Linked DNA regions of Homo sapiens. The protein of the gene in region 3 interacts with the protein of the main gene of each other region in a pairwise test. Each region holds a gene or a part of one and is shown on either strand. Other genes may lie near its edges.

The links.
Region 1: the proteins of UNC93A (region 3) and SLC39A7 interact in binary tests that used the Homo sapiens proteins (3 or more experiments, as listed by UniProt).
Region 2: the proteins of UNC93A (region 3) and SLC48A1 interact in binary tests that used the Homo sapiens proteins (3 or more experiments, as listed by UniProt).
Region 4: the proteins of UNC93A (region 3) and ATP13A1 interact in binary tests that used the Homo sapiens proteins (3 or more experiments, as listed by UniProt).

What each region holds. Positions count from the first base shown.
Region 1 is NC_000006.12:33,196,089-33,203,866, forward strand, and holds the start of SLC39A7 (zinc transporter SLC39A7 isoform 1 precursor), read left to right. Parts: upstream 1-4,778; 5' UTR 4,779-5,157; coding exon 5,158-5,568; intron 5,569-5,656; coding exon 5,657-5,825; intron 5,826-5,983; coding exon 5,984-6,037; intron 6,038-6,174; coding exon 6,175-6,339; intron 6,340-6,471; coding exon 6,472-6,612; intron 6,613-6,821; coding exon 6,822-7,018; intron 7,019-7,452; coding exon 7,453-7,725; 3' UTR 7,726-7,778. Other genes in the region: RXRB (retinoic acid receptor RXR-beta), read right to left, coding at 346-518, 1,674-1,853, 2,220-2,376, 3,081-3,328, 4,154-4,388. UniProt on the Homo sapiens protein: Transports Zn(2+) from the endoplasmic reticulum (ER)/Golgi apparatus to the cytosol, playing an essential role in the regulation of cytosolic zinc levels.
Region 2 is NC_000012.12:47,768,307-47,776,628, forward strand, and holds the start of SLC48A1 (heme transporter HRG1), read left to right. Parts: upstream 1-4,931; 5' UTR 4,932-4,998; coding exon 4,999-5,134; intron 5,135-8,322. UniProt on the Homo sapiens protein: Heme transporter that regulates intracellular heme availability through the endosomal or lysosomal compartment. In macrophages of the reticuloendothelial system, is the heme transporter for heme-iron recycling.
Region 3 is NC_000006.12:167,301,060-167,308,820, forward strand, and holds part of UNC93A (protein unc-93 homolog A), read left to right. Parts: intron 1-2,859; coding exon 2,860-3,074; intron 3,075-4,855; coding exon 4,856-4,991; intron 4,992-6,719; coding exon 6,720-6,851; intron 6,852-7,761.
Region 4 is NC_000019.10:19,646,117-19,653,877, forward strand, and holds part of ATP13A1 (endoplasmic reticulum transmembrane helix translocase), read right to left. Parts: coding exon 7,668-7,761; intron 6,605-7,667; coding exon 6,479-6,604; intron 5,682-6,478; coding exon 5,573-5,681; intron 3,825-5,572; coding exon 3,625-3,824; intron 3,548-3,624; coding exon 3,451-3,547; intron 1,644-3,450; coding exon 1,483-1,643; intron 1,413-1,482; coding exon 1,298-1,412; intron 1,210-1,297; coding exon 1,013-1,209; intron 232-1,012; coding exon 89-231; intron 1-88. UniProt on the Homo sapiens protein: Endoplasmic reticulum translocase required to remove mitochondrial transmembrane proteins mistargeted to the endoplasmic reticulum.

The DNA.
Region 1 (7,778 bases), about 130 Mb from region 3:
CCCCTTGTAAGAGGCTTTTGACACCCCCTCCTTACATATAGTCTTCCTGTGAGCCCCATCCAAACCAATCCCTGTAAGTGAGTCTTCTCTTCTGGCATTAGTGCAAACAATTATTTATTTGGGACATGCCTATGGTTCTGCCAGTGGGTTGTTTGGGGAGTGGAGACAGAAGGAGCTATCACATCCACCTCAGATGTTTGAAAGACCTTGTTTGGCAGCACCTCCAGTCCCAAGTAGTGTTAGGAAGGTTATGAGGGGAAAGGAGGGGGAGGGGATGTAGAACAGACCTAGACTGCCTCCCCCAACCCCCATCACGAAGGAGAGTGGATTGACCCCAACACTCACGCTGCTGCCGCTACCCCCGGTTCCCCCAGGACCCTCAACGCCCTGGTCACTCTTCTGTTCCACAGCAAGCTCTGCCTCCAGGATCCTGTCCACAGGCATCTCCTCGGGGGCTCCCCCAGCCCCCTCCCCATCCCCATCCTTGTCCTTTCCCCGCTGACGCTCCTCCTGTACCGCTGCAGGGGGAAGGGGGAGAGAAAAAATGGAAAGTCAGCAGCCAGCCATGAAGGGGTTCCACAAATATCCTTACGGCCTCATCAGGATCTCATGGCCCTTGGGAGATATTTATAGGAATTGGGGAAGTCACTAGAAAGGGTGGACTGGGGGCAGCCCTGAAGGAAGGGTTATAAAAGGGCAGGTAAGTCAGTCGGGAAGGGTGAGGTAGGTAAAAGAATTAGGGAGGAATTTAAATGGAGAGCCTACTACATGGTTAAAAAAAACATGCCAAGATTCAACCTGAGAAAGCTGATTGAAAAAAAAAATTTTTTTAAATAAAATATGCCAAGAAACATGCTAAGCACATTTTACCATTCACTCAATTATCATAATGATGCTGGAAGCATTTATTCTCATTTTTAAGATGAAGAACTCGGGGTTCAAAGAGATTAGTTTGCTTAAATTCATATAATACATGGCAGGTCATACAACTGACTCTAAGTGTGTCTGAGTGCAAATCTTGTGCTCTTCTGACTCAACAAATAGGCAGTGAAAGGAGCACTGGCCTAGGTCTTTGAAGATGTGGGTTCTGATCCCAAACCTGCCTGCCACTCCTTTGTTGCATGACCTTGGGAAAGCCAAGCCTCAGGCTCATCTTCTCTAAAGTGGGTGTTTTGACCAAGATATGCTCTAAAGTGTCTCTCAGAATCCTAGGAATCTGACTTAAGAAGATAAGATGGAGACACAGAAGAAGGAAGGGAAGCCCTGAGGTCTTCAGTAAAGTCTGTAAGCTTAAGAGTGCCCAGTCCCAGGAGTTAGAGGAAAGATCACAGATAACAGGAGACAGAGACCAGAGAAGGTCCATGGAATCAGAGGAGGAACCACTCAGGTTAGAAATGGGGAGACAGCCCATCATGGCTAAGGAAAAGTTATCCTATCCTAGGATCAGTCTAGGGAGGGGTCATATGTGCAGGCCACAGAGGCCTAACCATTAAGAAGGAAACTCAAGGGCCAGAACAGGGTAACAGGGAGGAGAGCTGCGAAGGGAGAGAGAAATCAAATATCGCCCTCTAGAGGAGAGAGAGCAGTCCACCCTTCCAGAGAGGTACACAGTCTGAGTGGGATAAGGGAGAAGGGCATGTGGTCTAAGACGCCTGGGCAGGGCGGGTCCTTACCCTCCCTCTTCATGCCAGTGGCCAGGCACTTCTGATAGCGGCAGTACTGACAGCGGTTCCGCTGGCGCTTGTCCACTGTGCAGTCTTTGTTGTCCCGGCAAGAGTATGTAAGGTCTTTGCGGATGGTGCGTTTGAAGAAGCCCTTGCAACCCTCACAGCTGTAAACCCCGTAGTGTTTGCCTACAGGGAAAGGGGAGGAGCAATAAGAAGGTTGCATGGAGACACCTTCACCATTTAGTCTGTTTCCAATCTCCCCCTAGCAAAACTTAAAGTCCTCCCTGTTTGCCAAATACAGAGATAGGGAACCAGGAGCTGAGTGATGATCCAGTCCCAGTCTCCTCACTGTTCAGAAACCCTACACGCTGCTTCCTTTTCCCTCTGACCTTCCCCCCAATCGCGTCCTACATCTCAGCTTCAGCTTCTTTACTCCCATCAGGCCTCCCCCAGGTCACTTGCTCTGACCAAACTCCATAAGCCCTGGGAATCCCACAGGTGATGATACATGGCCCAGACTCTCCCTCTCTGTTCATCCTCTGAGCCACATACCTGAGCTTCTGTCCCCGCAGATTGCACATAGCCGTTTGCCAGCCCCAGGGCCACCTGGAGGGGGTGGACAGTGCAGGCCCCGGACCCCTAAGACTGGTGGCTTCACATCTTCAGGGGGGCCAGACCCACCCCCAGGGAGTGACACTGTTGAGTTAATCTGGGATGGGGGAAATAGGGAAGTCACAGGAAGACTTATTGGGAAGCAGAATGTCACAGAAGTGATGGAAATCATTCCCTACCACTAAGCAAGGCCCTGCAATGCACATTCCAGAGGCTGTCATTTACACTGCAGTCTATGTGAAAGGCCATCCCTGGAGCACAACCCCAAAGTGAATAAACAGGCCCCCCCTGAAATTGTGCAACACAGTGACCCTGAAGGGCAGGTGTCTTGGGAAAGCAGATGGGATCAAAAGGGCAGAAAATCAGATAGATGAAAAGGACATCAAGAATATCAGAATTAGCCGGGCGTGGTGGTAGGCACCTGTAATCCCAGCTACTCAGGAGGCTGAGGCAGGAGAATTGCTTGAACCCAGGAGGCAGAGGTTGCAGTGAGCTGAGATTGTGCCACTGCACTCCAGCCTGGGCAACAGAGCAAGACTCCATCTCAAAAAAAAAAAAAAAAAAAAACACACACACACACACAAAAACAAAGAATATTAGAGTTCTTTTAGGGGAGGAAGCATGCACTGAAAGATCAGTCACCTCAGGAAAGGCAAGGGGTCTCATAAAGACCACAGGCCTGACAAGGTTAGAGGATTGGAAGGTCAATGGGCCATGGGGAAGTTCACACAAGGATCTGGGGTTACAAGGAAAACAAGAAAATGAAAGTGGCCAGGCAGTAAGTTGGTCACAACCTCTCACCTGGGGGCTGCTGACAGGCCCGGAGAATCCTGGGGGAGCTGGAGGGGGCAGACCAGGGGACCCCATGGAAGAACTGATGACTGGAAAGGGAGAGCCCAGTGGGGGTGGTGGCATCGGGGGTGGGGGTGGGGCCCCAGAGCCTCCAAGGGATGGAGCTGTTGAAGGGGGTAGGGGTGGCCCAGGAGGAGAAGGGGGAGGGACTCCCTGGGGAAGGGGATTTGGGGAGGAGCTGTCTGGGCTTCGGGAGTCTGAGGGAGGGGTATGTACAGGCACACAGACACACAAGAGACAGAAGAGACAAAAAAAGAAAATGAGTCTTCAAACATCCAACTAGAGACTTTAATTCTCTAATACCCCACCGTGCCGGACCCAGCCCACTCCACCCATCCCCAAGTTCAGAGACACCCTGCTGTCAAACAACAGTGTAACTCCGGCTGGTCCGATGGTAGTGGGTTATCAGAACTTATTAACATTTGTGTCACTAAAATTGGTATACAACCTCCCACTGCTATATTTGACTGGCTAAAAAAACCCAAAAACAGCGTAACTCCTCATTGTGGTGAGAGGAGGGAGTTGACAAGGAGAGGAGGATAGTTCAGGTGAGGAAAATTTTCCAACCAATCCATTTGAATGAATACCAGGTCATCCCAAAGCCACACCTGTCTCGTGGGTGGGGCAGCACGTGGGGTAGACCATCGAGCCCCTCTATTCCCAGCGTAAAGCCAGGTAGCCAGAGCGTGCAAGGGAAAGAGACAGGCAGGAGAGACCCCTCCTAAGACGCAGGATCTGCCTGTAAACGCCCAAAGTCCTGAGGTTTAAGAGGAATCGTGCCCTTCCCAGGCCCGCGACCTCCGGTGCCCAAGGCCTCAAGCGGTCACAGCTAGGAGGGCGGAAGCTCCCCTTCCCCGCCCCGCCCCGGGGGGGAGGGTGCTAAGGCCCTCGGGAGGGAGGGGACGCGTGTTTACAAACAAGGGGGCGGGAGCGCAAGGAAAAGAGCACCGGGGGAGGGTGTGGGGGAGGGGTCGCAGATAAAGCGGTCACTGGCTCGCCTGCCCTTCTGCTGGGGCACTCACCCCGCCCGCTGTCGCCCATCCCGTCCCGTCCAGCCTCCCCTGGCTCCGGCTCCGGGGTTTGTTGTTCTCCGCCTGCCACCGCCGCCGCCGCCGCCGCTGCGGGATCCAGCCAGGGCCGTCGCCGCCGCCACCGGGACGCGACCCCACAATGCATTTCTTTTCGCACCCCCACCGGCCCACACTGCCCTGCGGCATGCCGCTGAGGGAGGAAGGGCGGGCGAGCGGCCCAAGACATGATCCCTGGCTGAGAGTAGGGATACCGAAGAGGTCCCAGGGATTCCCAAGGATTGATCGGAGGATTAGCTGAGCACGAGGAAGCCCCTGAGAGAAAGACTCTGGCCTGGATTGGGTCGAATTAAGCCCGTCGCTCTGCTCAGTACCAAAATGACAGCGCCAATGTGGCAGCCATCTTTGTACAGACGGGAAGTCTCGGCGCGAGTTCCCGCCCCCTCGTCTAGTTGGAAACCGAGGAGGCGGTCTCCTCCGGCCTGTTAGCCCGCCTCGCCCACCCTCCCCTCAAATCACCTCCACACTCGCGCATGCGTGTCAGTGCAGGATGGATTCGTCGCTACCGGAGTGCCGCCATATTGGTAAAGGCATTAGGGCGAAGGTGGAACGGAACTTCCTGTTCTCGCGGGATCTAAAGGCGGGACTGCCACGTCCAAGCAAACCGGGAAAGGAGAGGATCCCGGAGCCGGTGAGAATTCTCTGTTTTTTCTCTACCATCCTTTCCAGGCCTTTTCCTCACCTAATGAGTCGTAGAGACGAGGGCCCAGAGAGTCTGTAAAGTGGCTGGTGAAAGATTAGTGTCCCAGGGCCCTACATCCGGGAGGTGGTTCGGGATAAAGAGAACTAGTCTTGGGAACAATGTAGGTGGGAACTTAAGGGAATGGGAGAGCGGCCCATAGAGGTGGACGGAGGGCGCGATTGGAGTAAAGCGGACCCTGTGTAGGTATAGAGTTGAGTCAAGTGGAGTCACTGCCTCTGTCCCTCTGGTCAGCGTGATGGCCAGAGGCCTGGGGGCCCCCCACTGGGTGGCCGTGGGACTGCTGACCTGGGCGACCTTGGGGCTTCTGGTGGCTGGACTCGGGGGTCATGACGACCTGCACGACGATCTGCAAGAGGACTTCCATGGCCACAGCCACAGGCACTCACATGAAGATTTCCACCATGGCCACAGCCATGCCCATGGCCATGGCCACACTCACGAGAGCATCTGGCATGGACATACCCACGATCACGACCATGGACATTCACATGAGGATTTACACCATGGCCATAGCCATGGCTACTCCCATGAGAGCCTCTACCACAGAGGACATGGACATGACCATGAGCATAGCCATGGAGGCTATGGGGAGTCTGGGGCTCCAGGCATCAAGCAGGACCTGGATGCTGTCACTCTCTGGGCTTATGTGAGTCTCCAGGGGATGGGAGAGAGAAGGGCTGGTTCTGGATTGTTGGGAAACTCCACAGTACTTGACCTTGACTCTCCCTCACCAGGCACTGGGGGCCACAGTGCTGATCTCAGCAGCTCCATTTTTTGTCCTCTTCCTTATCCCCGTGGAGTCGAACTCTCCCCGGCATCGCTCTCTACTTCAGATCTTGCTCAGTTTTGCTTCCGGTGGGCTCCTGGGAGATGCTTTCCTGCACCTCATTCCTCATGCTCTTGGTAAGTAACCTCTGACTTCTACCTCAAATCTAACCTATTTCGTTCTTTGGAGGAAAAGGGTTCTTTCTCCTTTATGATCCCTGACCTTTCGATATTCCCCCAAATACACACTCATTGTGTCAGATATTCCCTCATCTGGTTTTCCCCCCTTCTTCCAGAACCTCATTCTCACCACACTCTGGAGCAACCCGGACATGGACACTCCCACAGTGGTGAGGAAGAGACAGATGGGGATGGGAGTTGGGGTGCTGGGGAAGGTCCGTCTCTCCCTATTCCTCACCTCCCGCACTTGAGGAGGAGGAGTCTGGAATGCACATCTCCCTTAATGTCTCAATGCCTCCATTCCCAGGCCAGGGCCCCATTCTGTCTGTGGGACTGTGGGTTCTCAGTGGAATTGTTGCCTTTCTTGTCGTGGAGAAATTTGTGAGACATGTGAAAGGAGGACATGGTCACAGTCATGGACATGGACACGCTCACAGTCATACACGTGGAAGTCATGGACATGGAAGACAAGGTGAGCCCAGGAACAACTTTCCTGAAAGCTGACTTGCCTGCCTCAGAATCTCCTCATCTTATGGCCCTCAGGAGGGAGAGGACATGTTGGAAGATCTGTTCTCCACTCTGACCAACTCTTTTCTTCCCTCAGAGCGTTCTACCAAGGAGAAGCAGAGCTCAGAGGAAGAAGAAAAGGAAACAAGAGGGGTTCAGAAGAGGCGAGGAGGGAGCACAGTACCCAAAGATGGGCCAGTGAGACCTCAGAACGCTGAAGAAGAAAAAAGAGGCTTAGGTAAGGGCCAGAGTTGGTGATAAATTTGGGCAAGGGACATCATCACAAATCACATGGAATATGTGCTGTGGGTAATGGCAGGTATCTGAGAAACACTAAAGGACTGGGTGTAAAGTGGTCTCTGAGGGGAGGTGTGAGAATAGCTGACCAAGACTGGAACAAGTGGTGATGGAAGCCTCTGATCATTTTCTCTTCTTGTCCTGTACAAGACCTGCGTGTGTCGGGGTACCTGAATCTGGCTGCTGACTTGGCACACAACTTCACTGATGGTCTGGCCATTGGGGCTTCCTTTCGAGGGGGCCGGGGACTAGGGATCCTGACCACAATGACTGTCCTGCTACATGAAGTGCCCCACGAGGTCGGAGACTTTGCCATCTTGGTCCAGTCTGGCTGCAGCAAAAAGCAGGTTGGTGATGTCTGCCAAACACAGCTGCCTCAAACCCTTTATCTCTCCTCACTCACCCTAAACCCAAACAGCCTCTTATTAGTTCCAAACAATTCATACTGTCATTGACAAGTCCTCTAGAAATGAGGGGGAAGAAGTTCTGGTTACTTTGTCCTTTAGCTCAGTATTTCTTAAACTGGTCTATAAACCATCTGAATGGTTTAGTGGAGTCTTACACACACACGCCTACTCAATCAGAAAGTCTGTGGAAAGGACCTCTGATCTCTTAAGATTTTTCAGAAATTGTCTATTCTAGACTGCTCCCTCTTCTCTTTTTATTTTGATGTTTAGTTTCCAAATCCATGTCCCCTATACCTATACCCCACCAGCCACTTCTAAACCACTGATAATCTTTAGCTATTGGTGAGTGCCTTTTTCTCTTTTCTGCCCATCAGGCGATGCGTCTGCAACTACTGACAGCAGTAGGGGCACTGGCAGGCACAGCCTGTGCCCTTCTCACTGAAGGAGGAGCAGTGGGCAGTGAAATTGCAGGTGGTGCAGGTCCTGGCTGGGTCCTGCCATTTACTGCAGGTGGCTTTATCTACGTAGCAACAGTGTCTGTGTTGCCCGAGCTGCTGAGGGAGGCATCACCATTGCAATCACTTCTGGAGGTGCTGGGGCTGCTGGGGGGAGTTATCATGATGGTGCTGATTGCCCACCTTGAGTGAGGGGTGGATAAACTACCCCTGCCCCAAACCTCTACCCCTAACTCCAGGTCAGG
Region 2 (8,322 bases), on a different chromosome or scaffold from region 3:
CTGCTTGGTGGAGAGAGGATTAGAGGGGGAAAGACGAACAGAGGAGGACCAGTTAGGAGGCTGCTGCAGGTAGGTAGGTGGTGATGATGGTGGCTGGACTAGGGTGGCAGAGGGAATGGAGAGAGAGGACAGGGCAAATCCAACTGTATTTTGTAATGAATTTGTTGTAGGAGCAGAGGAAAGGGAGGACTCAGAGATAACACCTAGGTTTGGGTCTGAGCCACAGTAAACAAAGACATGCCCCAGGGACATCAGAGGTCTCTCTGCATGGGGATTAACAGGAGAGGAGGAAGCCCTGACATGTCCAATAAACTCAATCATCTGGAAGATAGCTCAGTAGGTGTATCCTTGACCCAGCATTGTGGGAGAAGATATGTCTGGAATGTGTATATCTGCGGGGAGTGAGAAAGGAATGTCAGCAGTCAGGATGTCTGCAGATGGGGAATTAGAAATCTGTCTTAGTGTTGGTGGGACCCAGTTCAAAAGAGACTTCAGAAGGATTGATGGTTTAGACGGGTAATCTATATAGGACCTGTTTAGATGAACTTCAGTGGAATGAGGGATGATGTATTAGGATAATAAGGTTAGCTGTAACAAGCAACTGAGCTGTAACAAAGCCACTGACACTTCTCACTCATATTCTATAGTCCAGTGAGGGTCTAGGGGACAGGGGTAGCTCTGCTCCATCCATTCATTCAAGCCTAGGTTCTTTCCATTATGTGGTACATATGGCCTCTAAAATTGTCACAGAATGGGAAGAGGGAATGCAGGTTGTATGGAAGATTTTTAAATGAGCCCAGCCTAGAAATGGCGCACATTGCTTCTGCCTTCATTCCATTGTTCAGAACCTGATCCCATGGCATCCGTTTGACTGCAAGGAAGCTGGGAAGTGTAGTTCAAATTTGGGAGGTACTGTGCCCAGAAAGAGACACACAAATGTTGGTGTGTGTTGTGGAGCACTAGTAGTTTCTGGCGCAGGCAGGGAGAATGGCTGTGCATCTTGTAGGGGTCGTAGTAGTGTCTGTCCTGGGCTGGGTTGGGAGTGTACTCTCTGAGAATACCTTGGAAGGAAGCTGATATGAGAAGATGTGTATGAGTGGTGCACACCCATGTGCTTTATGGCTCAACAATCATTCCATTCTTTCCCATTCTCAAGGTCTTTCACTGGATAAGATCTTAATTCTCTCACACCTTACCACTGAAATAACCTTGTGAATGCTTTATCCTCTACAATTTTCCCCCATCAAATCTAACTGGATATTATAGTCTAACTAATCTTCCTAAGACTTGGCGTATGTCATGCAATCCCTGTTCAATAAAAACAATAACAATTTCAACAGCAGCAGCAATAATTTGTTGAATTACTGTGTTGAGCACTTTGAGTGTATTATCTCAATATATCTCGATCTTTGTAACAAGCCTGTGATGTTTCATCATCATTCCCTGTGTACAGATGGAGGGACAGGAGTCCTGGGTCTAGCTGTGCTAACACAGTAGCCACTAGTCATGTGCAGCTACTTAAATTAATTAAATTAAATTTAAATTAATTTAAATTAAATACACTAAACTTAAATACATTAAATTTAAATTAATTTAAATTAAATACAATTAAAAATTCAGTTCTTCAGTCACACTAGTCACATATCAAGTATTCAATAGCCACCTGTGATTAGTGGCCACCATTATGGAGGGTGCAGATATGGAATATTTTCTTCCAGGCAGAAAGTCAATTGGATTGGACATCTGTGAGTTAGGGGCACTTGCCCAGGGTCACAGCAAATGGTGAAGCTAGGCCTCTGACCCCACCTGAGTCTAATGCTCTGCAATAGCTCTTCATTGTTTCCACAATTTAAAAAATGTTTAAGCCTGGCCTTAGCCTTGTACAACCTGGTCTAGTACTACTGTTACATAATTATTTCTCTTTCTTTTCTTGCGCAATCTCACTTTCCAGCACAGCAAGCTTGCTCACTGCTCTCCCATACTCCTAATATGTCCACTCATAATATTTTTGCTCTCCTCCTTCTGTCTGCTCAGCTAATGAATTCTCCCCTGACCTTTAGGTTCAGATAGCTGAAATAGCTCTTGAAGCAGTTTCGTCTCTTCCATTCTCTCTGCTTCTGCCTGGACCAGCTCTGAAGCCCCTCATCCTCTCTTGCCATGGCAGCCTTCTGCTGCTACTAATTCTACTTCCTGACATTTATTGAGTATCTACCATGTGCTAGGCACTCTTCCAGGCACTCCTCATCACAACACTTTGAAGTAGGTGTTACTGCAGTCTCCATTTTAAAGACCTGGTAATTAAAGCACTGTGGGGTGAAATTTGTCCAACTCATCTCTCTGCTTCTAGTGTTTCACAGGCAGTTCGCCTTCACTCTATTACTCTGGCCATAGTTCTAAAACACAGAATTGTGAGTTTTCTCCCCCAGCCCCAAGGGGAGGGGGACAGCCTTCTTAACAGAGCATGCAAGGCCCTTTATGTTCAGAACCTTTCTAATCTCCAAACCCGCTACTCTACCTTCAAACTTGACATTCCAGCCACAAACGACTTACAGTTTCCCAAAGCGGCCGCTTTATTTCTTCCCTCTGCGCCATCACACGTGCGGTTCCCACTGCCTGGAGTACTGTCCATCCTGGCCAGCTCTGAAGCCATCCATGGAAATGCACTCCGGACCACGGGGCTTGCTCCCTCCTCCACAGGACCAGCACTCACTCTCCACCGGCAGCTCCTAAAGGAGGGCTGCTGCTGAGCTCACAGCCTTGACATCACTTCTCATTAAAATACACACTCCAAGATTCAAAATTTAATAGGCAGGGGTGGGGCTGGGTTTATTTTTTTATTTTTAAAGAAGCTCCCAGATTATTCTAGAGTGAGGCAAATGTGCTTAACACTGGTTTACATCCCTTGTTTGGCAGTTAAGCACACCCTGTCTAGATTCCTTGTGTATAATTGCTTTTGTTTTTATTTTATTCTTACCTTCATTCACTCACACTCACCTATTCAACAAACATTTATTAAGGGGTCATTATATGCCAGACATGCTTTTAGATGTTGATGTGAACAAAACTGGCACTGTCCCTGCTCATGAAGTTTATGTTCCAGAGGGGGTGTGGTGGGTGGGATAATAATGGCCCCCAAAGATGTCCACGTCCTCATCCCAGAACCTATGAATATGTCACCTTCCACGGCAAAGGGATTTATTTTGCTGATGTGATAAAATTAAGGATCTTGCGATGGGGAGATTATCCTGGACTATCCCCTCAATCACAGGGGTCCTTAGAAGGGAAAAGGAGGAAGAGGGAGTTAAGGCATGTGGGTAGCCTCACTCTAGAAGCTGGAAAAGGCGGCCGGGCACGGTGGGCTCACACCTGTAATCCCAGCACTTTGGGAGGCTGAGGTGGGCGGATCACCTGAGGTCAGGAGTTCGAGACCAGCCTGGCCAACATGGTGAAACCCCATCTTTACTAAAAATACAAAAATTAGCTGGGTGTGGTGGTGGAAGCGTGTAATCCCAACTTCTCGGGAGGCTGATGCAGGAGAATCACCTGAACCCAGGAGGCAGAGATTGCAGTGAGCTGAGATCACGCCACTGCACTCTAGCCTGGGTGACAGAGCAAGACTCCGTCTCAAAAAAAAAAAAAAAGTCAAGGAAACTGATTTTCCCCTAGAGCCTCCAGAAACAAGGCAACCCTGATGTCCCCTTGATTTTAGCCCAGTGAGACCATTATTTGGATTCCTGACCTACAGAACTGTAAAATAATAATAAGTTTGTGTTATTTTAAATCAGTAAATTTGTGGTAATTTGTTACGGCAGCACACACACAAAAAAAACTAATGCAAGGGGTATTGGTTATGTTTTGTGCAGGTATATGATGGGCCTCCCCATGTGGATCCTTAGTGCTGTGGCAGAGCCCTTGTTATTGTGCTGGGATTTTCCCTCCAGCTCCCGGCCGGAAGCTGGGCTCACGTGGGAGCTCAGTGCCCTCCTGCTACAGATCTGTCTCTTCCTTACAATGGTATGATCCCGAGGGTCAGGGTGAGGGGTTTGGGAGGATAAGGCTTGTGCTGATAAAAGGAAAGGTGAGGTCCGTTGCAGTGGCTCAAGCCTGTAATTCCAGCGCTTTGGGAGGCCGAGGTGGGAAGACAGCTTGAGGCCAGGAGTTGGGGACCAGCCTGGGCAATATAGCGAGACCCTATCTCTACAAAAAATAAATAACAAAAAATACTAGCCAGGCGTGGTGGCACACACCTGTAGTCCTGGCTGCTTGGAAGGCTGAGGTGAGAGCATTGCTTGAATCCAGGTGTTGGAGGATGCGGAGCTATGATGGCGCCACTGTACTCCTGCCCGGGCAACAGAGTGAGACTCTGTTTAAAAAAAAAAAAGTAGGGATTTGTGGGGAGCTGTGCGTGAGGATAGAATGTATAGAATGTTTGCAGTCAGAAGGTGATGGTCGCAGGGGTTCCCAGACTTTAGTGTGTGGAGAAATCCTCTGCGATATGGTGGGAGGGAACCTGGTTGATAGAAGGACGGGCGGAAGGAATTCTATTCACAGCGTACTCTAATATTTCTTAAGTTTTACCTATTAATTTTTAACAAGAAATTTTAATTTTAATTTTAAACGAAAATACGCATCGTACTCAGAGGTAAAGATTTTTAATCCTCGCGGTTCGCTCGTATAAAGGCATATTTCCGGTCCCTTCCAAGGTCCAACAATCCGGACACGGCGGGTCTGGGGATGGGCCCAGGAATCCGCCTTTTTAGCAGCATTCCCCCAAACGACACGGCAGCTTCGCAAAGCGGCGGTGGCGTCTGCGGTTCCGGGCGCGGGCGGCCTCCGGCCGGGGAGGGCGCTGTGCGGGCGGCGCTGGGGGCGGGCCGGGGGCGGAGCGCGGGGCGCCGGCTGCTCTGGCGGCTCCCGCGGCTCCGGCTGGCGGCTTCGGGCCCTGCACCTGTGACTCTCGGCCGCGCTCGCCCTCGGCCCGCCCGGCGCCGCAGCCCCATGGCCCCGTCCAGGCTGCAGCTCGGCCTCCGCGCCGCCTACTCCGGCATCAGCTCCGTGGCCGGCTTCTCCATCTTCCTCGTCTGGACGGTGGTCTACCGACAGCCGGGGACCGCGGCCATGGGAGGGCTCGCAGGTACCCCGGGACGCTGGGCGGCGCGGGGCGGGTGCGCGGCTGCGGGGCGGGCGCCGTCAGCTGCTCCAGGACGCTCCCCGCGAGCGGCGCTTCCCCGCGGAGCGGGTGGAGTGTTTACTCGAAAACAGCGGTTGGCGGCGGCAGGCCCCACGCGGGCCCGGGCTCCTGGGCATTCCTGGGTGCCTCTGAGACCCGATGCCCGCCCGGGCGCCACCTGGGGGTGCCGACGGCCCGCCACTGCCGGCTGCACAGACCTGCCGCGCCGCCCGGGTTATCTGTCACGGCACACTGCCTGTCGCCCTCCGCCCAGTTGCCCCACGACAGTGTCCCCTCCGCGCGCCCGCGGCGCTGGTCGCCTCCTATCCCCAAACACACACACACACACACACGCACACACACACGGTTGTTCTGAGGGATCCCCTGCCCCCCAGGCGCCCCTTCCCTGGGTGCTGGGTGAGGGCAGAGAGGGAAGAAGTGGGAAAGGAAGAGGGCTAGGGGTGGCTGGGGAAGCCCATCTCCCTCCTTCCAGAGGGCTCCCCCGCAGAGCCCTCTGCTGAGACCCACAGGGAGGACGGCGTTAGGGATCTCATAGAAACTGGACATTCTCTTTCCACCCATGTTGGTGCCTTTTTGCTACCCGTCTGCTGTGGCTCCTCAGCCAAGCTCTGCCAAATCCTGCAGGCCAGCCGCCCTTTCTGTGCTTCTGGGAGGGAAGGGGAAGCATCGGTGCGCTGATGGGGGCTCTGGGCTGACCAGTGCTCCTTGTTGTGCACATTTGGGCTCGCAGTTTAACCTCTCTGCGCCATAGAATTGGTATGAAGATGAAAAATATTATCTCTACTTTCTAACATTTTAAAAAATGCTTTCTATGTGTCAGGCACTATGTTAAGCAACCTGCTTCCCTTATTTCATTTAATCCTTACATTAGTCTCATGAAGTAGGCCTTACGATTATGTCCATTTTACAGATAAGGAAACTGAGGCCTGAAGTTAAATAAATTGCTTACCCGGGATTACACAGCTACATGAAATAATATGTGTGGGAAAGGACTTTGGGAAGAAAATACGTATAATACTTTTACATATGATGATTATATTCCATTACTAAAATCCTCGGCCAAAAGAACCCTAAATGGAATAACTAAAAATAACTAATTTACTCACTGCCACAGGGAGTGCTGAGTGCCATCCCTGGGTAGAGTCGCAGCATGAGGTGGGGTTAATGCCTTAGAAGAGGGGCATACAGGGCCCCACCCTACACAATGCCAACAAAGCACTGGGTCACCAAGAAGGGGGGATGGGCACCCTGGCTAGGGTGTTCTCTGCCTGCCCAGCTGCCTCACCACCTGTGGGATCCTGAGGACAACTGGCCCATCTCTGCGCGTTATCTACAGAGCCCTAGTTCCTTTCCCCACTGCACCCCGCCACCCTCCATGTTTGTCAAGGTTCACTTCTCCCTGCCACTTTTTTGTTTCCTATTGGCCCTGTTGCTTTCCCCTCTGGAAGGCGGCGTCAGAGCCCTATGATTGCATTGCGAAGACCGAAGGCAAGAGAAGGATGAGCAGGGAGGGCCAGCCTGGGATCTCAGCTGGTTGTGTTGAGTCTGGCCTGGTACAAGTGGAGGTGAACCCTACCTGGCCGTTTGACCCTATCCTGGGCCACAGTTTCCTCATCTATTAGGAGTGGGAGGAGATGTCCCCAAAAGACATCTGACTTCCCTCCAGATCTGAAATCTTGCAGTGCTGCCCACTCCCTGAGTCTCCAGCTGCCTCCTAGAGGGCTGTGGAAAAGGCCTTCTTTCTTATACTCTAGGGAGTTGCCTGGGGTTTTCTTCCGACCCAACTCTGCCCTCTCTCCCTCCCCACAGGCTTCCCTTGGCCTATGAGGCAGGCCAGCTGTGGAGCTGCCTTCAGAGAGAGGCGCTAGGGCAGCAGCTCGCTAGGGCAGCAGCTCGCTAGGGCAGCAGCCAGCTGGAGTAGGGTCCTGGTATCTCCCTGATGGTCTGATCTTTGACAGTGGCTGTGGAAGAGCCAAAACTGCTTGGTAGTGGTGGTGGTGGATGGTGGCAGGGAGAGGGGTTGCCAAGCCTGGGCCTCCGACCTTCCCCACCATGAGTGAGTTCTCAGAGGGTCTGTGGCCAGTCAACCTTCTTCCTCTTTTGGGGGTAAAGTGTCAGCAGATTAACTAACGTGTGAGCACCCTACTTCTGACTCAGCGTTTTATAGCTCAGAATCTGCTGAGTCACCCAAGGGTAGCCCCAGCATGCTCCTTCTCCTGTGTTGGACCAGGCAAGGACTGATTGGATGTGCCAGTTTCTGGAGCAGAGTCATGGAGCCCCTGGGTCTGGTGGGCAGAGTGTTCACGGGTGGGGATACCCTCTCCCATCCTGATGGGTACCTTCGAAGAAGTGGCTTTGGAGAAAGGCAGTGGCAGAAGCAAGACTGGCTTTCCTGGGGAGGCGGGCAGGTGTGGGTTGGATCTACCTGGTCTGGCTTTGCTGTGGGAGTCCTGGGGGAAAACACAAACTCTTGCTCTGGGTTTAGTAGACCAAGGAAAGAGAAAAAGAAAAGTTGCTCCTGAAGTCTAAACAGCTCTATGTTTTTCCCAGGTGAGCTGTGAGCAAGAGCCCTGGGGCTCCAGGACTGTCTTCCTCCTAGGAAGGAATAGAGGGGCCTGACCTAGGCCCAGTGTCCTTCTTGTCTGCATTTACCCTGTGGGATCCCCCGGGTGTCTCCTGTCTCCTCACCTCCAGCCCAGCCACTGGGGATGCTTTCACCGCCCTACCCTATGCCTTCCTTACCCTTAGCTTATCGGCTGTGAGCCAATAAGCTCACATGGCTAAGCAGGGGCTCTGCTCCTTGAAACAGGTAGGATGGAGCAACGGTGTGGTCTGGTGTGGGCTTGCAGCCAGGTGGGATTGGGGACCTGTCCATTCCACCCCGAGTTTTATAAACCAGGCTTCCTAGAGTCCCCAAGTGTGCCAGGGAAGGGTATTAGGGAGATACATTGCCTCCTGCCTGATGTGTGGGAGGGGACCAGTGAGGGGCTCCATCTCCTTCAGTGACCCCCTTGGGTAGGGCTGGTGGAGAGCTCCCTTCCCAGGAGGGTGGTGGGAGCCAGGGCGTGGGCAGCAGGCCTGCCTCCACACTTGATGTGTGTTTATCTGGAGGGGAGGCCTCTGTGCAGGGC
Region 3 (7,761 bases):
ACTTTATTTTCAAAAGCAGGCAGTGGGCAGGCTTTGGCCCGCAGGCCATAGTTTGCTGGCCCCTGCTCTAGAGGAACAGCACAGGCTTCTCTGTGGCTTCCAGGCCCTTCATTGCCAGCTGTCCTCCGCAGGTGGCTGTTGTCTGTGGAACCTCCCCTGCAGGGTTACCCCCAGTGTGCTCTCTGGCCACAGCCCCATCTCGGTTCACGGAATCCCGCAGCCTAAGGGAGTCCAAGTCTAGAAGTTATGTAGAGCAGAGATCACACACATGTAAATGAAGAAGTGGTCTTACTATTGTGATTGTAACAGTCCTGCAGGATCCTGTGTGTGTCCTTTTCTATAAAGCAAGACCATGTCTCCATAAAGAAAAACATAGGAAGAGAGAAAAATGGACCTAAAAGAACAAGAACACCCTCTCCCTGGGTAACTTTCCTGGGTTTCTGAGCATTGCATTCATAGTCAAGTTTCTTGCAAAGAGCCATTCTCTTTAGAATTTAGGACACAGCTGTGCAGCATCCCCCAATTCATGCCCCACAGAAGGCTCTGAGTCACATGACACCCGGACATACATAATTCTGAACAAAGGGGTGTGGCTTCTGTGTTCATAACCTGCCTCTCCCCTTCCCACAAGGCTTTCGGGGAGATTGTAGGTTGTGTCCTATTGGGCTGCTTGACACTGAAGTCCTGGCCCACAAGACGAGATTGTGAAGAAGGCGCTGCCTTCAGTGAGTGGAGGAAAAATGTGCCTTTTCCACATGGTCTACACACAGTCAGCTCAGGGGGTCGGCTTGGAAGGGGGCCCTGATCATTGTAAATACCCTATGGCCTCCTGTGCAGGCGTGACAACCTGCCAGACCACATGGTGGCCAGGACAACACAGAGGAAAATCAAGGGTGACCAAGAAACACCTGTGGCAGCAGGAGTCCTGCTTTCATACGAAATTTCACAAACTTCATGAGAATCTTGAGTTATGAAATAGGAAGGGGAATATGTTTAGCCAAGATGGAAAGTAGCCAGATAACGGAAAGTAAAGCCTAGAAATAAATCTGCATTTCTAGGTGGAACCACATTACCAATGGTGCTTTCTGAGACAGGTGCTAGGATTCTGCTGTTTCTGCACACAGCTTGGAAGAGAGCTGGCTTTGCAAACCTCCCAGTTTCAGGAACGCTCAGCTGCCGGGCACAGTGCTGCAGCAAGTCCACTGCATGGGTCACACGAGGACACTGATGCTGAGAGAGAAAGCACTAGATAAGGTTGGTCAGGCACAGTAAGATAGGATAATTCCCGTCGTCTTTAGAGGAGCAGGGGTCTAAGTTCTCGGAGGTAGAAATGAACCGTTCTGAAAGATTCTGGCCCAGAGAGAAGGGAAGGATCGCCACCACTCTTGAGTCATCTGTGGTGCCCCAAACACTGTGTATCATTACCACTGCCAGGTGGGAGGAAAACAGTGGAGATGCAATGGTATCACAGACGGCACTTACAATCATGAGGGGACGAAAGGGCTTCTAGTAAAGTGAGAAACGCCTAAATAAACATCAGTTCTCCATCGACAGAAATTGAGGTGGATCAAATAATAAAGTGGTGGGCAGATGGAGATTTAGTCATATTTTGGAATTATGAGAAAGTACAGGATGTTTCCTCATGGATGAAATGAATAGTTAAAATATTTTTTTGTATAGATAACCCATTTATATAGTTCAAAATGCAAATCCAGGAGTCCCCCTTGTCCCCATTTCATTTTGTGTGGCTTCAGTGACCTGAGGCTAGCTGCGGTCTGAGAACCTTAAGTGGAAAATTCCAGAAATAAATAATTCATAAGGTTTAAGTTGCGCTTGTTCTGAGTAGTGTGATGGAATCTCTTGCCGTCCTGCTCACCCCGCCCAGGCTGTGACCCTTCCCTCTGTCCAGCGTGTCCGCACCATAGATGCTCCCCGGGCCATAGTCTCTCAGTAGCCACCTCTGCTGTCAGAGTGAAAATCCGTGGTACATGTAGAGTCTGACACCACCCGTGGTTTCAGGCATCCGCTGGGGCCTTGGAATGAACCCCTTTGGGTGGGCAAGCACTGCACTGTAAAAGGGTGTGCGGTGGGGAGTCTCCCTCTCACTGCCGTCCTCAGACCCCGTTCTGCACCCATAGAAAGTCCATGCCTGCTTTATTCCTAGACATATTTAATGCACATATAAACAAGCACATCTTTATGTCCTTTCTTACTAAATTCAATTGGTAGCGCACTCTACACAGAGGTCTGCATCTTGCTTGTTTTTTCTCTTTTTACCATTTATGGTGGGGGATTTTCCCATCCGTGTATAAAGAGCTTCTTTTTTATTTTCTTCAAATGCACAACATTCTGTTGTAGTTCAGATACCCCTTAATATCTTTAACCAGTTCTTATTGGAGGACTTTTGCACAAAATTGTTTATTTGAAATAAACAAAAGTGTAGCAAATGGTACCTTGTGGGAATCATTATCCTAAAAAAAAAATCAATAAAAAGCTGTCTCCTGTTAGAAATTGCGTTGGGGATTAGAATGAGAAGCAGAGTCCAATGGTTAAGGACACTCAGAACTTCTGGGGTCGCTCCGGAATTTTTTGTATTTTATGCCGGTGAGGACAATACTGACCTATTGTGGCAGGTTTCATGTGAAAGCCGGTAAGTCTTGAGGTAATCAGAGAATCAGCACGATCAAGTGCAACTAGACACCTGAGATCCTTAAGCATGTTGTGTCTAATGTCGCCTGAAATCTGGATCTGAATTAGCCCTCCCTCGCGAGAGGAGGATGAGTGACTGAAACAAATCCTTGCCAGGCACCCTGCCTCTGGGCCCCCATGAAAGCTGAAGCCTTTGCTATGTCCTTTCAGGGAGTGGTGTCCTGGCTGTCCTGATGATAGCTGCGTTCCTCCAACCCATACGAGATGTTCAGCGGGAAAGTGAAGGAGAGAAGAAATCAGTACCTTTCTGGTCCACTTTACTGTCGACTTTCAAGCTATATAGAGATAAACGTCTGTGCCTCTTAATTCTGCTGCCGCTGTACAGTGGATTGCAGCAAGGATTCCTCTCCAGCGAATACACAAGGGTATGAACGAAAGTGAGGGCCGGTGGCTCAGGCCATGCGTGGCATCACTGCCTTGCCTGTGTCTGTACCTGCAGGACCGCAGAGTGTCTCAGGCCACCTGCCCAGGGCTGGGGCTGGAGGGAGCGGGGTCCTATGCTCCCAGTGCTACCATAGCTGAGTTTATGATTCAAGGTCTCAACCTCCAAGTAACTTCCAACTCACAGGAGCTTCCACTTCTTGTCTCAAGGGAGAACGTCTTGCTTGATCCGTGTCTTCCTGGGGAAGGAGCCGGAACAAGTGGATGGGCAGCTGCCGCTGACTCACCCCACAGACACTCATCGGTGTTACCCCTGCCTGGACCTCACCCTGCACTCTTACTTTAGAGTTTACATATAGGAAAAGCATTAAGTCCATGAATACCACCAAAATTTCTTATCTCTCTAGTTTTTTTTTTTCTTTCTTTTTTTCTTTTTTTGAGATGGAGTAACACTCTTGTTGCCCAGGCTGGAGTGCAATGGCGCCATCTCAGCTCACCGCAACCTCTGCCTCCCAGGTTCAAGCGATTCTCCTGCCTCAGCCTCCCAAGTAGCTGGGATTACAGGCGTGTGCCACCACGCCTGGGTAATTTTGTATTTTTAGTAGAGACAGGGTTTCTCCATGTTGGTCAGGCTGGTCTCAAACTCCCAACCTCAGGTGATCTGCCTGCCTCGGCCTCCCAAAGTGCTGGGATTACAGGCATGAGCCACTGTGCCTGGCACCTCTAGTTTTCAAATCATGCTTCACAATCTAAAAATCGATGTGGCTCTTGAAGCTTCTGCTCCATCCACTCCTGCCACCTTCTCCCCTCAAGGTGAGAGAGGCGGTGCCCCACCTCAGGGTGCATAAAGAAAGAAGCCACTCCTGGAGGCTGTTGAGAGCTGGGGGCCAGAGCTGGACCAGCAAGGGCCTGTGTCTGGCAGAGGCTCTCCTTCCGGAGGAAACTTCTCTGCTCCAGATCCCTCCCAGGCAAGGCTGCCAACTTAGCAAGATAAAAAGCACCTCAGCAGGTAGAATTTGAATTTCAGATAAACCACAAATGTCTCTCCAGGAGTATGCCCAGGCCATAGTGGGTGTCCTCAACTTTATCTGGCAGTGCTACTTTTAGGACAGCCTTGATGGAGAATCTTAGGAGCTTAAAAGAGTAGAAACAGGATAACAGAAAGGTCTACTTGGCGTTTTGGGGACAGCCCCTCCTGCTCCTCCACTGGACTTGTCCTTGTCCCCCCTGATGTGGCTGTGGCTGGTCTTCTCGTCTCAGTCCCTGTTCTGCGTGCCCGCCCTTGAGGTCGCCCGTGATGGGAGTGTGGTGCGGTGGGCATGAGACACATGTGCAGCCGGCTGCTGGGCTGCTCTGAGGCCCCGGAAGAGGTGTCAGGGCAATCTTTTCATTTTCTCTTTCTCTCTCTGTTTTTTTTTTAACTCTCTTTAGACCTAACAGGTAATGATTGGCCCCAGCAAGGGCAGGGTGTATTGGCTTCCATATAAAATAGTGCCCATTTCACAGCAAATAGTGAGAAATACATGAGAAAGAATTTTGTCTGCAGTTGTCCAAACTGCCTCCTTTTAGTTCTCCCCAAACAGGATTTTCTTACAAACACCAGCTTTTCTCCTGCATGGGAGCCACAGAGCCTAGAGGAAGGTGTAGGCAACACTGGCCTGCTGGCCATCTCAGAGCAGATGTTCTAAGCACCCGACTGCAGCTTTAGCTTGAGCACGGGAGGCCTGGGAGCGTCCATGACGTGGCTCTGCACCCCTCTCCCCAGTCCTATGTCACCTGCACCCTGGGCATCCAGTTCGTCGGCTACGTGATGATCTGCTTCTCGGCCACTGACGCGCTGTGCTCCGTGTTGTATGGAAAGGTCTCGCAGTACACGGGCAGGGCTGTGCTGTACGTGCTGGGTAGGTATCAGCGTGGGTCCCATCCCAGCTGTCATAACGATTTGCAGTAGCAAAAGCGCACAGCTCACAGTCAGGACAGGCTGGAAAAGTGCCCCTGAAACTGCTTTGAAATCAGTAACGCCCTGTAAGATGCATTCATTCTTTCAGTCCTTTCTTCACCCCCTCAACAAGCAGGAATCAGATCTCTCCCCAAGCTGGCTCTGGGCAGGCACTGTGCTCGGCATGAGGCCACACAGCAAGTGCCTGCTCCGAGTGGGCACTCGGTGTGGTGACCAGGCCAGGGTGGGGCAGGGCAGGGTCTCTGCAGGTGCAAATGAGGGACACGAAGCCAGTGGTGAGGCCATGGGGTTCACGGAAAGACACGCTGGGGTTGGGGCAGCTCTGTTCCACATCTATTCACACAGTGGATAAGGACAAGACTTCTAAGGCCACAGACTCCTCCCTAAACACACAGCACCTTCCATTTTTCTTGGGAAGGGAAGGGAAGAGATGAGTCAGAGATCACGTGAACAATGAGGAATGCAGGCACTACGAAAAACAGCGCCTGGCATGTCAATGCCCCAGGCAGGGCTGGGTGTGGGGGCGCAGCCAGAGGAAGGGCACACGGTGAGCATCTGCCAGGGCCATGGAGCCTGGAGGCTCTGCCTGGGGTTTCCTATCCGTCTTCACGGCGCCCTGTGAAGCAGACAGTGTTCCCTTACAAATAGGAGATCATGGAGTGCAGAAGTGGAGGGACTTGCCTAAGGTGGCACAGCCCTGGGGCATGCGGTGTGGACCTGCCTTTCCGCTGACAGAGACCCTGCTCTTCCTCTGTGGCGTCTTGAGCGTCAATGGGCAGCCTCATTACTGCATCCTAGAGATGCCACAGCCTGTGGAAATTGGGGTCCCAAATCTGTGACCTGCTGGGACGAGTCACAAGGTGGGGCCCACAGATGCTACCTGCCTGGGGGGTCTGTGGCCTCCTCCCTTTTGTCCCCATGCCCCTACTTGGAAGGCTCAGATGAAACCATGGGCACACTTTGTCCTACCCCCTGGCTACTCGGAAAGGTGCTGGGATGCTTCAATTTATACCTAATGAGAAGGCCCTTCTCTTTCTGACTTTAAACCCTCTTAGCTTAGGGGCAACCTCAGGCCCAGACAGGGTGACCTTCCTTCCCAACATGATGCCAGACCACACCCAAGGCCCTCCAGGCTGAGGCTGCGGGTCACGCAGCAGGTGTATGGTGCAGAGCATTGATTTAGAGCTAGCAGCACGCATACACATCAGCTCACAAATTAAATGTCAAGGTTCCAACTAAAAAGACGACTTCCAGAGCATTAAGGGAACATTGAGCATGAAGCAAACATTGAGACAGTTCCAGAGGATGGTTGAGACGGTTGAGATGGTTGAGACAGTTCCAGAGGACGGTTCCAGAGGACGGTTGAGATGGTTCCAGAGGATGGTTGAGATGGTTGAGACGGTTCCAGAGGACAATTCCAGAGGATGGTTGAGACAGTTGAGATGGTTGAGACGGTTCCAGAGGACGGTTGAGATAGTTGAGATGGTTGAGATGGTTCCAGAGGACAATTCCAGAGGACGGTTGAGATGGTTGAGATGGTTGAGACGGTTCCAGAGGACAGTTCCAGAGGACGGTTGAGATGGTTGCTCCAGCACTGACCCACCTCCAGGCCCCTCCAGGCCATGATGATGGCCCTCATCGCCTGGCGGTTTCCCCTCTGCACCCCCAGGCGCGGTGACCCACGTGTCCTGCATGATTGCCCTACTGCTGTGGAGACCTCGTGCTGACCATCTGGCAGTGTTCTTCGTATTCTCTGGCCTGTGGGGCGTGGCAGATGCCGTCTGGCAGACACAAAACAATGGTGAGTCCCCAGCCCAGGCCCCTTCCTCTGTGGCAGCAGGGGGCGGTCCCTGGCCAAGGCAACTGTGGGGCTCATTAGATGCCAATGGGCCAGAGCCAAGAGAGATGAGTTGGGAGAGACGGGAGGGCCAAGAGGGCTTTGATGTCGCCTCTGAGTCTGATGTATTTTCTCTGAGCATTTATTCAGATTCATGATGCAAAACTGGAAAACCACCCAAGGTTCCTTCTGGGCACCATTCCCTCAGGATGATGTGGTTTTGCTTAAGTCAAGTCGCCCATTCGAGCTGGGGTGCAAGACTCTCTACCCCTAGGACAGCAGTCTCTTCATGACTGAAAACCTTTATTCAGATGTGCTTGTGAGCAGAGGCACACTCCCGTGTACCTGGGCCTGGGGTGTAAACATGCAGAGCCTTCCAAGGAGCCCACGGGACGATGGGAGGTGGCAGTGTGAGCCACAAGCCACACACATCACAGGTCACTAGGGTCAGTGTCTGTGGACGGGGCTCTGGGGCATCCTGGGCAGTGGTGGGTTTTCTGGGAGCAGCAGGTGGGGGCCCTGTGGATGTGGGGGAGCAGGGGAGGCCAGGGTGGGCTTCCTCCTAGAGGCTACATCTGCATCACGTATGGGCTGACCACTGTCCAGGTGGGGTGGGGTGCAGGAGGAACCAGGGCAGGAGGTGGCAGGGATGCTCCAAGGCCTTGCTGGGGCTGGGGCCCCTAAGAAGGCGGCCTGGGGGGAGTGCAGAGGAGTGGGGTGGAGTGGCAAGTCGGGTCCCCAAGTGTGGGGCCAGCATGTGGGGGAGGGTCAGATGCACCTAGGTCACTGGAAGCAGCAGAAAGCGCTGACACCCAGGAGTGACTGGGAGCTATGTGGAGTCGGCCCCGTGTCACAACAATCAATTCCAAAAGGC
Region 4 (7,761 bases), on a different chromosome or scaffold from region 3:
CCCCCAGCCTCTCCTGCTGAAGTCTGTGGAGTCATCCTCCTGCTATTCTCAGCTGCAGGGACATCACCTCCTCCAAGGCAGCACTTACTTCTCGGGGCTCCGGGCCTGGGCCTCACGGTACAGGTAGACAAGGCTCAGGAAGTGCACAAAGAACTGGAGCATGACGGTGAGGATGGTGTACAGGTTGAAGATGTTGGGCAGGGGCCGTTCTCGGGAGAGGGTCTTGAGGGGCTGCAGCAGCAAGGCGGGTGGGGGAGTCAGGATCTGGCTCACTTGGGGCCACCCTGCCCACACAGCAGGCAGTAACATCCCCTGCCTCCCGGGAGACCTTGTGTACAGCCACCACCAAATCCTGGGGGATTCCATGGGTCAGCACCAGTCCCTGGATCCCTGCCTGCCTCTCACCCCTGAGCCCAGGGCTGCCTCCCTGGCCCCGGCTCCGCCATCCAGGCTCCCCATGGCAGCCACAGGGGCCTGAGAATCATGAAGCAGATCCTGCCCTCCCTGGAGCCCACGGGACAGGCACAGTCCCGCCCAGCCAATCTCCCACCCCCTCCAGCCACCGGGGACTCCCTGCGTCAGCCCATGCCTGTTTGGGGCCTTTGTGTCCAGTTCCTGGCCGCTGGCCCCCCTGGTTCTTTACGCCTTGGCCTGAGTGTCGGTGTCGCACAGGCCTCCCCAGCTGTCCACCAGCCTGTCCTGTGTAGCCTATGACCCACTTAGTTGTTTTTTTACCCTCTTGATGATTGTTCCTTGCTTGTGGGGCTCTGTGGGGCCCACCCCTGGGACCCCTACCTGTGGACAGGTGTGGACGCCAAGCTGTACCACCTGGAGGGGTCTGGGAGCCTCAGTCCACACCTGCCCTGCCAGCATTTCCTGAGCCATCCCAGCTACAGCCCCCATCTCTGGGGCCCTGGGTCCTGTAACTTGGGGATGACAATTCCCGTGCCTATATCAGCCTGGCCCTGGCAGGCCCATGCATCCCTGGCCTTCCAGCACCTCTGGGGCCCACCTTGGAACGGGAGATGAAGAGGAAGCAGCCGGCCAGCAGCAGCCCCTGTAGGGTGGCCTGGAAGTCACTGAACTTGACTCCCTCCAGGTAGAGGACGCTCTGGCTGTAGGCCAGGATGAGGGCATTGAGCGCCAGGATCTTGAACATCTGTAGCGTGGTCACCAGCGTGCAGCGGCCCTGCTTGATCACGTGGCAGACTGCAGGGTGGTGGGGAGGCAGGTGTGGGTGTGGGTAGGGGTGCCAAGGGGGGAATGAAGGGAGGGGGAGCGGGGGCAGGCAACTCACTGCACTGGATGGATGAGAGCTTGGAGGTGAAGGGTGCTGCGATGCTGGCATCCCCCAGTTTCACAATGGGCGTACTCTCGTCCTCGAGGTCTCGCAGCACCTGGCTCAGGCGGTCCTGCAGGGTAGACAGCAGGCTGTCAGCCCTGGCCAGGATGGGGTGCAGCACCTCCCCTCTTGGGACTCACCCTCTGGGAGGTTGGCTGCTCCTCGGAGGGAGGGAGCCCCGACCGCTGCTTGGCTGTCCTGGAGGTGGCTCTGATGCCACTGTTGCTCAGGGTTGGGCTGTCCCGGGGCCGCCGTCGCCGCTCGACAACCCGCTCAGGGGCATTGGCCAAGAGCGCCACACCTGGGGGGCAGGAGGGTGTCAGACCCGGAGGAGCAGGCTCCACGGAGGGGAAGATTGCTGGCTTCAGAGCCACTGGTCCTGAAGTCCCCCAGCTGGCTCCCGTGAGGACAGTTCCCAGACTTCCCCATTTCACCTGACACCCTAAGGAGACCTCAGAGAGTGCCCGTGTTGCTTTCTACAAACTACTTTAAGAAAACAAACCACCAACAATAAACCCCCACAACAAATGCAATGAAAAAACACACAACACGAGATAGGTCAAAACTAAACTGATTTTGGCCGAGCGCAGTGGCTCACACCTGTTATCTCAGCACTTTGGAAGGCTGAGGTGGGCGGATCACCTGAGGTCAGGAGTTTGAGACCAGCCTGGCTGATACGGCGAAACCCCGTCTCTACTAAAAATACAAAAATTAGCCAGGGGTGGTGGCATGTGCCTGTAATTCCAGCTACTCGGGAGGCTGAGGCAGGAGAATCGCTTGAACCCGGGAGGCGGAGGTTGCAGTGAGATGAGATCACACCACCGCACTCCAGCCTGGGCGACAGAGCGAGACAGTCTCAAAATAAAACAAAACAAAACAACCTAAACTGATTTCAAAAGAAATAGCCAAGGAGCATGATTCTAGGAGGCAAACAACACTCAATAAATGCTTTAGTAGATAAAAGCAGATAAATATTGGAAAAGCAAAAAAACCAACGTAAGATTGATCTTTAAAATTCAATTTAACACCTGAGTTCTTGCAAAAAAAAAAAAAGAAAAAAGAAAAAAAGGCCAGGTGAGGTGGCTCACACCTGTAATCCCAGCACTTTGGGAGGCCAACACAGGCGCATCATCTGAAGTCAGGAGTTGGAGACCAGCCTGGCCAACATGGTGAAACCCCATCTCTACTAAAAATACAAAAATTAGATGGGCATGGTGGCTGGCGCCTGTAATCCTAGCTACTTGGGAGGCTGAAGAAGGAGAATTGCTTGAACCCGGGAAGTAGAGGTTGCAGTGAGCTGAGACCGTGCTATTGCACTCCAGCCTGGGCAACAAGAGAGAAACTGTCTCAAAAAAAAAAAAAAAAAAAAAAGGCAGGGTTCGGTGGGATGCAGTGGTTCACACCTGTAATCCTAGCACTTTGGGAGGCCAAGGCGGGTGGATCACTTGAGGTCAGGAATTGGAGACCATCCTGGCCAACATGGTGAAACCCCATCTCTACTAAAAATACAAAAATTAGCCAGGCATGGTGGCACGTGCCTGTAATCCCAGCTATTTGGGAGGCTGAGGCAGGAGAATCGCTTGAACCCGGGAGATGGAGGTTGCAGTGAGCCCAGATCGTGCCATTGTACTCCAGCCTGGGTGACAGAGCAAGGCTCCGTCAAAAAAAAAAAAGACAGGGTCTTGCACTGTCACTTAGGTTAGAGTGGATCACACCACTGCCTTGAACTCCCAGACTCAAGTGATCCTCCCGCCTCAGCCTCCCAAAGCACTGGGATTCCAGGCAGGAGCCACAGTGCTCAGCCATCTGTGTGCTTTTGACAGAGATCTGGGGCTATGAACCATCTTCATGGCTTCAGCTCTGGGTTTTCTGAGTCACTCTCCCAACTTGTTGCCTCTCTCCTGGCCTCTGGCCTCCGCCCTGCTCTGTTCCTGGGATATTCGCATCCCTTCCTGCCCTCAAAGCCCCTGACCTTGCCACCCCCTCCCATCCTCACAGGAATTAGTGCCCCCGTGGCTGTCACCAAGGGCCAGGTCTGTCTTTCTAGCTCAGTGACATGTCCTCAACACCTCGTCCACAAACGAAATACCCTAGCCCACAGCACTCACCCACGTCAGCATGCTTCAGGGCGCCCACGTCGTTGGTGCCATCCCCACACATGAGGGTCACGTAGCCCAGCTCCTTCAGGCTGGTGATGACAAACTCCTGTATGGGCGGAGACAGGCTGAGCAGGGGCTGCGTGCCTACCGCTGTGCCCCTGACCCCTAGGGCTGTGCACATACCTTCTGCTTGGGAGCCACACGGGCGAACACCTGCACATGGGGGATGAGGCGGAGCAGCTGCTGGGGGTCGGTGGCCTGCAGGTGGGCCAAGCCGTCGCCTGTGAGGCACAGTGCGTACTCCAGGGCCAGTGCCTTTGGGGAGCCCCGGGCCAGGGGCAGCACGATGCTGCCGTCAATGGAGCGCCACTCGCACTGCCGGCCTGCGGGCAGCACCTAGGGTTAGGGCTGGGGGCTTGGCTGACCGGGCTCAGAAGCACCCTCCCTCCACTCGGACCCCAGCACCAGCCAGTCTCTCCTCTCTGGAGCCCGCACCTCCCTACCCACCCAGGTGACCCCCAGCCCTTCTCTGGGGACTCCACAAAGAATGTCCCTCAGGTGCACAGGGTGGAACCAAGAGCCTGGGGCCTGAGCTACTTGCCTGAGAGCCCGGGACACAGCCAGATTAGAACCTGGGCAGTCTGACCCCAGCTAAGCCATGCCCCCACCTCATGCAAGGCCCCCTAACCTGAAACACACAGAAGGGGGCTATTGCGCTCTCCTTGGGAAACCCCACACCAGGCCCTCACCTCATTTATCCCTGCGCCCGTGGCCTCTCTGAAATCCTGTTTTCTCGGGGCTGGGCCCCCTCCCAACTCTGACAGGGCCCCTGAGTTCTCAACATCTTCTTGCTCCACTTCCCCTTTCTTGCTGGCTGGCCCTGGCTTGGATGCTGGGCGCTGAGGATGGCCAAGGGCGGCCCGCCAGCCCTCCTGGCACTGCCTGCTCACCCTGGACCATCTCAAGCTGAAGGGCAGCACACTTCCACCTGGCTTGTGCTGCAGCTGTTGCTAGACCAGCTTCGCTTGTCAATCAACAGTTCTGCTCATCCGCTCCATGCCACCTGCCCACAATCCCCAGGCCCTGGAAGACCCCGGTAGCTGGGGCTGGGACAGGGGGAGGCCTGCGACCAATAGAACAGAGGGAGGGCAGGGACCGAGTCCTCTGAGAGGTGGCCTGGAGGTTCCGGAAGCTGCTCTGGCCCAGACCTGTGAATGTTTGCTGCCAGCAGCCCTGTGGCAACACTGCTCCATGTGGTTCTTCTTAGGGCCCTGTCAACACTCATGCAGGTCCTGAACTGCGTGCGCCCACAGGGGCTTCACCTCTAGCTCTGGGGCAGGTATCTGGTAAGCCCCACACCTCTAGCTGGGAGGGGCTGGGTCTCTATGTCTGCCTCTTCATCAATCTGAATCCAGGGCATTGCTCAAAGAGGTCACTGGGGAGAGGTTGGAGCCTTGAGCTCTGGAATCAGGCTGTCTGGATTCCAATCCTTAGCCATGGATTGGAAGTGACCTGGGCAAGTGGGTTCACTTCTGAGCCTCTGTCCCTTCTCTACAAAGCAGGGCCCCGAGAGCTGACCCAGCCAGCTTCCTCCTCTGTGGTGTGGGGAAGGCAAGCCACCCCGTGTGGTGCAGGATGGGGTGGAGGGACCAACGCAGTAACACGCACGGAGCGCTCCGCCTGGGGTCTGGTCAGGCTGAGCACTGGGCAAACTGCCATCAACTGTGGCTGAGGATGCCAGCAGTCCCTGTGCTCGGGAAGGGAGCACTCGGTACATGGGCAGCTTGCCGGGCCAAAGAGGGTGTGAAATGAGGATGACACTGAGGATGGGGAGTAAGCGTGGTAGGAGCAGTATCTGCCCATGAGTGCACAGGAAACCCGAGCTGGCAGTCAGACTATCGCCTCATTATGGTAAATAAACACCTACATGCCGCACATCCTGGGACCTGCGACCCAGTGAACGCTCACATGCTGTCCGAGGTGCCCAGTGGGCCAGGGCTGTGATTAGTGGTGCCAGGCATTTGAAGACACTGTGCTGCTGAGGCCTGGTACACAGGTGGGCTGTTGCGATGGGAGCTGTTCTTGGACTCAGGGTCCCCCTTCCCCACTGTGGGCCAGGCTAGGGCCTCACCTTTCTCGGAGGGAGGCTGCAGGATCAGCGTGTGGGCCTTTTCAATGAAGTGCAGCTCCTGGGCCACGTGGCATGCAGTGAGCGGGTTGTCTCCCGTGATCATGACCACCTTGGGTAAAGAGGGGCAGAGGCTCAGCATGGCACCCTGGGGCCAAGCTCTAGGCCAGAGACAAGGCTGCCAAGTCTCCTTCTAAGGTAGGCCACAGTGGGAGATCCTGGGCCTCTAACCGAGATGCTGAATGGGCTTCCAAGGGCCACAACCCACCCCCACCCAGGTCATTTTACACAAATGACACGTGTATGTGCGTCCTTCTGAAGACACCCTTAGCTTGGATTTGCAATACAAATGAACAACCTGCCCCTGAGGTGGACCCTTTTGGCTTGGTAGCTGCCCATGGGGGTAATATTTCAGCAAAGAGGAGGATGGGACCATGACCTCTGGGCTTGGTGGGGACTAATCACATCACCCATGTGACCCAGAGCCATCATCCTCTGAGACGGCTCACTCACCCCTTACACCCTAAAAGACACCCTAAGTCCCAAAATAGAAAACACAAGCCACCAGAAGCCACCAGGACAGGCAGACAGTGCCCCCCACCCAACTCCCCAGCCTCAGCTTCCTTCTCTCCAGGACGGCGGTGGAACGGGGAAGTGGAGAGAAGTGCCCCCATCTTCCCATGATGCGGGGAGTGAAGGGAGTGGTCTGTGGAGGAGAGAGGAGCCAGCACAGGCGGGTCCCAGAGTGTCCTTGGGCCAGTGGCAATGTTAGCACCTGAGCTATGATCTTGCTCAGCTAAAACATGCAGCCTGTGAGACTTGGGTGCCCACCCCTACCACGAAGCTGTAATTGTCATCTCCTCGCCTCTATTTCCCATGCAGAGGGTGGAGCCGAGCACCGTCCCATACCCGGTGGGACGCATTCTGGATCTCCCGGATCACGGCCTTGGAGTCAGCCTTGAGCGGGCAGGAGACCACAATGAAGCCGACGAACTTGAGGCTGCACTCCAGGGCCTCCCGCTTGACCTCCCGGGCCTGCGGACAGACAGGGGCACCCTCACCATCTGTCCCTCCCTCTGCCCACACTCTGCATTTCCTGAGCTCTGACCATGCGCTGGGAGCCAAGGGGACAATGGAAGGCCCTGTTCCCGTAGTGGGCACATGCGAGGGTTGGGAGGGGAGAAATGCCAGGAGGGTACCAGGCACGCTTGAGGGGTGGGATCTGGCAGTGACTGGGGGGTCTGGGTCCCCCGAATGTGGCTCTATGTCCTGCTTGCGGACATGGGCACATCACAGAGTCCCTTGTGGCTCAGCTTCCAAGTCAATGAAGTAGGGACTCTCCCAATAATGTTGGAGTTTAGCCAGGAACTCTTACTCACTGGGGCTCCACCACATACCACAGACTGGGCACAGACCCCTGGCCTTAGGGAGCTCACACTGCACCAGGGGAGACGCATGATCAAGAAAGTCACAGAAATCGGAGTGCTGAGTGCCATGAGAGAGGAGGTGAGAATGGAATCCAGAGAGGGTGGAAAGGCCTCAGAAGTGGCCACTATGAAGGCGATGAGGACCTGTGTCACTGGGAAGGGGGCTCCAGGTGCAGGAACGGGGCAGAGCATGCAGGCTGTGAGCTGTGGCCTGGGCTCTGCACACAGTACTGCAACCTGAGGCTAAATTCTGGAAGGATCCGCAGCTGTAGGGTGCAAGCAGAAAGAACGAGAGCCCAGGAAGAAGCCAAGCGGCAGATGTGCCGGTGGTGGAGGCGGAGGGTGGGCTTTGTGGAGGATGGATGGGTGAGAGGGCTGAGGATGCCACCTAGCCCTGCCCAAGACCAGGGCAAAAGAGTAGAGCTAGGGACACACCAGGACTGGGGCAGGTAAGCCCTGCGTGTGCTCTGCGTGAGCCAGGACTGGGTGGGTCCCCACAGCAGTGGACAGACTGAGTGCCATTTGGAGTCTCCAAAGGTAGAAGCTGGAGGCGGGGCAAGGAGGACAAAATCACAACCATTCAACCTGGCACTGTGGGACACAGGAGGTGACTCAGGGAGGAGCTGACGGGCCAGGCACATGGTGAAGGCAGGGGGAGCCTGGGCCCGTACCTGCTGGTGAGTGAGGTGTCCCAGCTCCTTGTACCCCAGCGCCAGGACGCGGGCTCCTTCCCGGGAGATCTCGGTGTGGATGTGGTGGTAGTCG